2 separate regions of the Homo sapiens genome follow, and region 1 is linked to region 2. The links come from fine-mapping of genetic effects on gene expression. A gene starts in region 2. The other region holds a variant in brackets. All regions are shown on one strand. Distances are between the middles of the regions.

Region 1 (4,383 bases), 760 kb before region 2:
AGTGAGACTCTGCCTCAAAAAACAAAAACAAAAACAAAAAAAGTTAGTTTGATTTTTTTTGGTTGTTCTTGGGTTTGTTGTTGTTGTTGTTTTCATTTTGTTTGTTTGTTTGAGACGGAGTCTCGCTCTGTCGCCCAGGCTGGAGTGCAGTGGTGCAATCTCGGCTCACTGCAAGTTCCGCCTCCCGGGTTCATGCCATTCTCCTGCCTCAGCCTCCTGAGTAGCTGGGACTACAGGTGCCCGCCACCACACCCGGCTAAATTTTGTATTTTTAGTAGAGACGGGGTTTCACCGTGTTAGCCAGGATGGTCTCGATCTCCTGACCTCGTGATCCACCCACCTCTGCCTCCCAAAATGCTGGGATTACAGGCGTGAGCCACCGAGCCCGGCCTGTTCTTAGTTTTTAATGCAACTCGATAATATACTTCCCTTTAGCTTGCTTATTTAATCTATATTTTTACTTAGGTTTTAACCTGAAAGTTTCTTATTTTGTCCGTTCTTCAACTGTTTTTTTTTTTCTTTTTTTTGAGACTGAGTCTCATTCTGTCGCCCAGGCTGGAGTGCAGTGGTATGATCTCAGCTCACTGCAACCTCCGCCTCCCGGGTTCAAACGATTCTCCTGTCTCAGCCTCCTAAGTAGCTGGGATTACAGGGATGCGCCATCACGCCCGGCTAATTTTTGTATTTTTAGTAGAGACGGGGTTTCACTATGTTGGCCAGGCTGGTCTCAAACCTTAAGTGATCCGCCCACCTCGGCTTCCCAAAGTGCTGGGATTACAGGTGTGAGCCACCTCACCTGGTTTGTTCTTCAACATTTTTACGAGAATTAAAGTACAGTCCTATCCGGCATTTCTGATGATTTTCAGTGTGATGCCAGCACACTGGCTAGCCATGTCACCACAGTGGAACTTCCACTGCTTCTTCAGCACGCTTTCCTGGGTCTCTCAGTTCCCAATCCCACTGCTCCCACTGGAGGACCACCTGAAGCTGCCCAGTCCTGAACCTTTCACAGCTGTGTGGCGACGTCGGGTTTGTTCTCAGCTTCTCCTGCAGAGGGTCAGCCAGCGCCTCTGTCTGCAGGGACAGCTACCCTCATCCCTCCACCTCCCGCTTCTCTTTGCTCCTGTTTCTCCCAATGACCCTTGCCCTGGTAGATTCATGTACTGAAAACAATAAATCTACCCCCTGTTGTTAGTGAGGACTCAGGAGAGATCAGAGGTGGCTGCCTGTTGGAAGTGCCGTCTTTAACCGGATGCTCAGTGTATATGGTTTAGTGTGATCATCTTCAGAGGAACTGTGTGTGTGCAATGACACCTTTTAGAAGACTGACATCCACGGGGTGTCCAGCAAAATGACGTCGCGGAGGCCGCATGGAATTCACAAGCACAGAGCTGAATAGGTTTGGCCATTTTCTAAATAGTTTCTGAAAATCCTGCCATTCAAAGACTAGCAGCTTAATCAGTTCTTTCAAGTGGAAAAAATATTGTTGGAATTTTACAAGATGCCTTAAAATTCTGCCTCCCAGGACTTTAAAATGCAATTGTTTCTTTGTAAGTTTAAAAAATTACTGGCATTGATACATTAATAATTTATCCAAGAAACATTGCTAGGCACTGAAAATATTTTTAGTGAATTATTCTGAAGCGATTGCTAAGTTAAGCAATGAAACACAGTCCTCTACAATTTTACAGTTTTAGCATCTCATACATAATGTCAACATTTATGTACATTTCACCCGGAATTACTCATTATTTCAATGCAAAATGGTAGTGCTAATTCCCAATGTTAAATGTCTGTCTCTATACTAGGTACATTGACTTAAAGCTTTTTTTTTTTTTTTTTTTAACCCTTTTAGAGTCAGGGTCTTGCTCTGTCACCCAGGCTGGCCTGCAGTGGCACAATCACAGCTCACGGCAGCCTCGACCTCCTGGGCTCAAGTGATCCTCCCACCGCAGCCTCCTGAATAGGTGGGACTACAGGTGCCCACCACCACGCCTGGCTACATTTTTTTATTTTTATTTTATTTTTATTTTTTTTGAGACGGAGTCTTGCTCTGTCGCCCAGGCTGGAGTGCAGTGGTGTGATCTCGGCTCACTGCAAGCTCCGCCTCCCGGGTTCACGCCATTCTCCTGCCTCAGCCTCCCGAGTAGCTGGGACTA[T/C]AGGCGCCCGCCACCACGCCCGGCTAATTTTTTGTATTTTTAGTAGAGGTGGGGTTTCATTGTGTTAGCCAGGATGGTCTCGATCTCCTGACCTCGTGATCCACCTGCCTCGGCCTCCCAAAGTGCTGGGATTGCAGGCGTGAGCCACTGTGCCCTGCTGATTTATAAGCATTTGACATCAGCTGTTTTGTATATTAATCATGGTACAAGCACAATGTGATTAATAGGCGTTAAAACCAATCACATATTTAAGGTCTAATAGAAAACAGCCACCGGCCGGGCACGGTGGCTCACGCCTCTAGTTCTAACACTTGGGAAGGCCAAGGCAGGTGGATCACTTGATCCCAAAAGTTTGAGACCAGCCTGGGCAACATGGCAAAACCCTGTCTCTACAGAAAATACAAAAATCAGTTGGGTGTGGTGGTGCGTGCCTGTAGTCCCAGCTCCTTTGGGAGGCTGAAGCAGGAGGATCAATTGAGCCCAGGAGTTGGAGGCTGCAGTGAGCTGTGATCGCACCACTGCACTCCAGCCTGGGTGACAGAGTCAAACCCTGTCTCAAAAAAATAAAAGAAAGTTAGCCATTAAATTTAATTCTCACCAGAAAAAAATAAGTAAAGAGTTTGTGATTTTAACATTGTTTCTTTTTTTTTTTTTTTTTTTTGAGACAGTCTTCCCCTGTCGCCCAGGCTAGAATGCAGTGGCGTGATCTCGGCTCACTGCAACCTCCGCCTCCTGGGCTCAAGCAATTCTCGGGCCTCAGCCTCCCAAGTAGCTGGGACTACAGGTGCCTGCCACCATACCTGGCTAGTTTTTGTATTTTTAGTAGAGATGGGGTTTCACCATGCTGGCCAGGCTGGTCTCAAATTCCTGACCTCAAGTGATCTGCCCACCTTGGCCTCCCAAAGTGCTGGGATTATAAGCGCGAGCCACTGTGCCCGGCCTGTTTCTTAAGTGAAATTATTTAGTTCCAACATCTGGACACAGAAGATTCGGTACCAAGAGTTCCACACGAGCAAGCTCCTAACATTCCCAAAATGATAAGCAAAGTGTAATGATAATTTTGAAATTATTTAAGAATTGTTTTTGGGCCAGGCGTGGTGGCTCACGCCTGTAATCCCAGCACTTTGGGAGGCCGAGACAGGTGGGTCACGAGGTCAGGAGATCGAGACCATCCTGGCTAACACAGTGAAACCCCATCTCTAATAAAAATACAAAAAAATTAGCTGGGCGTAGTGGTGGGCGCCTGTAGTCCCAGCTACTCGGGAGGCTGAGACAGGAGAGGGGCGTGAACCCAGGAGGCAGAGCTTGCAGTGAGCCAAGATCCCGCCACTGCACTCCAGCCTGGGAGACTGAGCGAGACTTCATCTCCAAAAAAAAAAAAATTGTTTTTGGTGCCAGATGTAGTGGCTCAAGCTTGTAATCCCAGCACTTTGGGAGGTTGAGGTGGGTGAATCCTGGCTGAGACCAGGAGTTCAAGACTAGCCTGGGCAACAAAGAGAGACCCACCATCTCAACCAATAATTTGAAAATTACCTGGGCATGGCGGCATGTGCGTGTAGTCTTAGCACTTGTGAAGCTGAGGCGGGAAGATTGCTTGAGCCCAGAAGTTTGAGGCTGTAGTAAACTGTGATTGTGTCACTGCACTCCAGCCTGGGCAACAGAGTGAGACCCTGTCACAAAAGAAAACAGAAATTGCCCAACAGTGTTCCAGAGTATCCCTTTACACTCCCACCAGCAACGCGTGACGATGCCAGCCCTTCCATAGCCTTGCCAGTGCTCACTGTTGGCAGCGTTTTGATCTCAGGCATTTTTTTTTTTTTGAGACGGAGTCTCGCTCTGTCACCCAGGCTGGAGTGCAGTGGCGCGATCTCGGCTCACTGCAAGCTCCGCCTCCTGGGTTCACACCATTCTCCTGCCTCAGCCTCCCGAGTAGCTGGGACCGCAGGCGCCTGCCACCATGCCCGGCTAATTTTTTCTGTTTTTTAGTAGAGATGGGGTTTCACTGTGCTAGCCAGGATAGTCTCGATCTCCTGACCTCGTGATCCGCCCACCTTGGCCTCCCAAAGTGCTGGGATTACAGGTGTGAGCCACCACGCCCAGCCAATCTCAGGCATTCTACTCAGTATATAATAGTATCTCATTATGGCTTGATTCATATTTCCTTAAAGATACTGATGTTACACAGTTTCACATGCATATTGGCCATTTGTATATCTCTTTTCTT
Region 2 (4,383 bases):
AGGGACGCCTCCAGTCCCACCCCTACCTTTTGGAGGTGGGAGAATCACCGTGCAGGTCACTGACCCACTGACCACAGATCACCACTCTCTCCCGCCCCCGTTTCTTCCTCCTGAGACCACTGCTGCCTTCAAACGCAAGTAACCCAAACCTGCTCCCAAACCCATGGCAAGACTGACCCGGAGCCTAACCCAGCCCTGCCCCGAGCCTGACCCTGATGCTCGAGACTAGACCCCAGACTGGACCCGGTCCCAAAGTGGGACAACAAAGACCACAGCGGGGACCACCCAGGTCCCCCAGAGAGAAAACCCGCGTCGGACTCCAGGGAGCTCATGGTAACCCCTTGTCCTGGGGCAGCTTCATTTTACTTTGGCAAGGACCGCAGTGTTCGCTTTTCTCATTAAACGAGGGGCTTTCAAGGATGTGTTAAAGTACGTGAGAGACGGGCCTGGTGCCGGCTGGTCCTGTTTTCTTAAGGCGGAAGTTGGGGAACCGCGTCAGCACTCCGGGGTTCGGATTCCTGGAACCTGGGGCAGAGTCTGAAATAAAGCAGCACCGGCCCTGTGTGGCGCGGACCCATGGGAAGCCTTGAAAGGAAAGTCTCTTCAGAAAGAAACAATGGGTTCAGTGACTTGTACACTGAAAAGATAGATGGCCAGTTTTAAAGTTCTCCTGCGTTTAAACACGGGCAGCAGCGGGGTTGACGGTACAGGCACCAAGTTCTGACATAAAAGTCTTTCCTTAAATCATGTAAAAAAACCGAGACGTGCGCACTGCCAACTTACACTCATCGACACAAACTTACAATATTTATAAATAAGTCGCAAGCAAACACTGAGTTACATTTACCACGAAGTCACTGGACAGAGACCAAAATCCCATGAAAGCGGATTGATGTGAAACCACGTTAGATCTGAGACGCAGACGTGAGAAACGCCACTGATAAGAGACACGGAAGATCGGAGCCCAGCCCCGTGAGCCGGTCGGGGACAGCACGGGGGTCAGCGTGCGGCCGGGCCCGGCTCAGGCTCGCTGAGGTCCAGGAACGGGCACCTCCACCTGGACACGGCGCGCTGCCCCGGCAACCCCCAGGGGTCTCCCAAACGCAGACCGGGACGCAGCGACCACAAGCGTGGCTGCGGGACGGGGGCCTTGGGGCCCGGGCGTAGTGCGCCCGCTCGGCACCTGCCCCAAGGCGCCGCCGGGTGAAGCAGGTGTCCCGGAGGGCCGGGCCGCGGCGGCTCAGGGGATGCCCTCCCTTCTCTGGCAGCACTGCGAGGGCGGCGCGGACCAGTCGTACACGTAGGACAGGCGCAGCTGCACCTCGCGCTTGCACAGGCGGCCCTCGCGCGCCAGCGTCGCGTGCTTCTCCAGCATGTCCTCCAGGCTCTGCTTGTGCGTCACCAGGTACTGGTTGCTGCAGCCGCGGGACCGGTATTCGGTGTCGAAGCGCGGGTCGTGCTCCCGCTGGACGTCCACCGGCGCCAGCCAGGCGCCCAGAGACACGTCCTCGCTGTGCCAGGCGCGCAGGTAGTCGCGGCTGAGGCGCAGGTAGTGCACCAGGTCGGCCGAGAGCACGTAGCCGCCGCCCAGCGCGTAGGGCAGGTAGTAGTCGCAGAGTTGCCAGGCGGCCTCGCGCCAGCGCCCCCCCGGCTTGACGCGGCCGCGGCCCGAGAAGAAGCCCCAGTAGAGGCGGCGGCGGCGCGCGGGCTCGCGGGCGCGCAGCTCGGCCAGCAGCGCGTCCAGCCGCGCGAAGGAGTCGTCGTCCGCCTTGAGCACGAACTCGAAGGCCACGTGCTCGTCCAGCCAGGCCAGCATGGCCAGCACCTTGGCCGTGAGGTTTTCGTAGGCGTCGCGCAGCGCGGGCAGCAGCAGCAGGTCCCCGTGCCGCGCCTGCTCCCGCTCCAGGGCGCGCCGCTCCTCGGCGCCCAGGCCGGCCGTGCCCACGGCAAAGCGCGCCCACACGTCGCCCGGGGCCCCGCGCCGCGCAAGCCACGTGCTGCGGATCACGCTGCGGCGCTCGGCGGCGCGGGGCGCGCTGGCCACCAGCACTGCCAGGAAGGCGGCGGCGCGCGCGGGCGCGGGGGGAGGCGGGCTGCGGCCCGACATCGCCCTGGGGTCCCCGGGCTCGGCCGCGCAGCGCGCCAGGTAGAGCAGCGCCGCCCCGCACAGCGCCAGCGTGCCCAGGCCTAGCGCCGCCCGCCGCCGCCACGCCCGCCGCAGCAGCTTCATGGCGCCCGCGCCGGGCCGGCGGCCCAGGCCGGACTCGCGAGTGCGCAGGCGCCGCCGGCTCGGGGCGGTGCGCGTGCGCACGGCGCTCCTGGGAGCGCGCCGGGGCCTTCCGCAGACGCCGAGCCCCGGGGCGCTCGGAGGCCGGCGGCCAATCGGCGGCCGTCACGTGGCCTCGGGCACCCTTGTCATTGGTCAACCTCGGAGCGGCCCCGCGACCGCTTCCGCCCGGAGGAGAGATGGTGGCGCCGGCGTCCCCTCCGTGAGGTCGCGCCCGTTCGCACCGCCCCCGCCCGCAAGAAAGATGGCAGTGGCCTGATCCGGGCCCGTTGGCGGCGTCACTGACGCTTCGCTCCGGTCCTCGGATCCCGAGCGCGGGGAGGCAGACCGGTGAGTGAGGGGCCCGGGACGGCCGCTGCAGGCCGCGGGGCCAAGTGTACGCCGGCCGGACGGCGAGGGCGGGTCTGGAGGCCGCCGCCGCCTCCCGCCTTGGGCTGGGGCATCGTCCGTCCGCTCGGCCTTGAGCCCTGGCGAGACTCCGCCGCCACCGGGGCTCCCGGGGTTCCCGGGGGCAGGGACAGGCCGACGACGCTGGCCTCCCCGGCCGCCGGCACGTCTGGTCTCCTACTGGCCAAAACCTACGAATGCCACCGGGAAACGGAGGCCCAAGGGGTCTGGTTGGACTCGCGTTTATCGGCGAGGCGACCTTGGACAAGCTGCCCCGCTTCCCTGCGCCTGCGCTTCCGCTTCTGAACCGCGTGGACCCTCATCCCCAGTTAGTAGGATTTGGAGATGTGAAGTCGGCTGTGTGGAGCCCTTGATGTCTGGCTCAGAGGCGGTGTTATGAACCCTGTTGAGCTTTTAGAATCTAACCGTGTGTGTTGTTAACTGCCAGAAATAGCCTCGTTCCACCAGAGCTGAAGCCCAGGGATGGCAAAGAAATAGCGTCTCTGCCTAAGCTGTTTCCCACGTCCGTTTTGCAAGGGTGTGTTGATTCCTTGCTGGGAACTGAGCTGCTAGGGGATGGCGAAGTCGAAACCCCATTCCGGTGGGACCGGCCCGCTCCGCTGTGCTGCGAACCTGGCACACCGTGATGAATAGATACTCTGAAGCCAGGAGAGGAAGCGCCACTTGATGGACTCCTGATATTTATAGTTACTTTTGGGTTACTTTTTATTCCCCCTTTTTCGAGACAGGGTCTTATCTTTTTGTTTTTGTTTTTTAAAGAGACGCAGTCTCACTGTGTTGCCCAGGCTGGTCTCACGATCCTCCTGCCTCAAGTAAACCGTGTAACTCATCAAGATATGTAGAATCAAGAACTAGCTTTATTTTCTCTAGGAACAAAGTACAGTCTCTTTGCACACAGCGTGTGTTTTACGACTGTAGTTAGTGGAGTCAGCACCAGGAGGAGGTGTCTTGGTTCTTATCCAGGACTCTCCCCTGGTCAGGCGATCTGGGACGACAGGAATAGAATTATGCCACCACTAGGGAAGGGAAAAGCCCTCAGCCATGTTCAGAAAATCAGGCCGGGTGCATGGCTCACGCCTATAGTCCCAGCACTTTGGGAGGCCGAGGCAGGAGGATCACTTCAGGTCAGGAGTTAGAGACCAGCCTGGCCAACATGGCAAAACCCCATCTCTACTAAAAATACAGATTAGTGGAGAGTGGAGGTGGGTGCCTGTAATCCCAGCTAACTGGGAGGCCGAGGCAGGAGAATCACTTGAACCTGGGAGGTGGAGGTTGCAGTGAGCCGAGACTGCACCACTGCACTCCAGCCTGGGCGACAGAGTGAGACTCTGTCTCAGAAAAAAAAAAAAAATCAGACATGAGCCCCTCACCCAGGGTTTCCTTCCTTGGGGGAACTCAGGCTTGTACCCCTCTTGGTTTGTGGCAGACTGCACTGACTTCAGGACCACTTTCATGGCGGCCCCACTGGTGTTTCTCGATACCTGGAGGCAGCATTTTTTCGTTTAATATTACCCAGGGTAGCATTCGTTGAGCGCCTACTGTGTGCAGGCAGAGTGGCAGGTGCCAGAACAGTGAAGCTGAATAAGACGGCCACAGAACAGGAGTCTCAGTCCATGTGTGTTGAGGGAACAGCTGTGACATGGCGGGGCCTCAGCGGCACCCGAAAGGACCCGCAGGTGTTTGCCGGA

Which allele goes with the higher level. Positions count from the first base shown, and alleles are read on the strand shown. Sizes are in standard deviations (SD) of each study's normalised expression.
In carriers of allele T in region 1, the expression in skeletal muscle of the gene that starts at base 2,508 in region 2 tends to be lower than with C alone (large effect, 1.7 SD a copy in FUSION).

Evidence for each region. PIP is the estimated chance that this variant, and not a neighbour inherited with it, causes the effect.
Region 1: its variant is the best candidate, but not a certain one, in a credible set for the expression of SDF4 in skeletal muscle (FUSION, PIP 0.62).

What each region holds. Positions count from the first base shown.
Region 1 is chr1:1,991,636-1,996,018 of GRCh38, reverse strand. All of the region lies in intron 1 of CFAP74 (cilia and flagella associated protein 74), which reads left to right. Among named protein-coding and RNA genes, the nearest start is that of CFAP74, 10 kb to the left of the region's middle. The variant T/C (reference allele first, on the strand shown) is at 2,160.
Region 2 is chr1:1,230,126-1,234,508 of GRCh38, reverse strand. SDF4 (stromal cell derived factor 4) reads left to right here and starts at 2,508. Exons shown (of 7, transcript NM_016176.6): 1 at 2,508-2,617. It overlaps B3GALT6 (beta-1,3-galactosyltransferase 6), which reads right to left and starts at 2,272. Exons shown (of 1, transcript NM_080605.4): 1 at 1-2,272. The coding sequence starts at 2,230. The coding sequence ends at 1,241. RefSeq lists enhancers at 1-406, 1,191-1,872, 1,873-2,554 and a silencer at 2,171-3,030.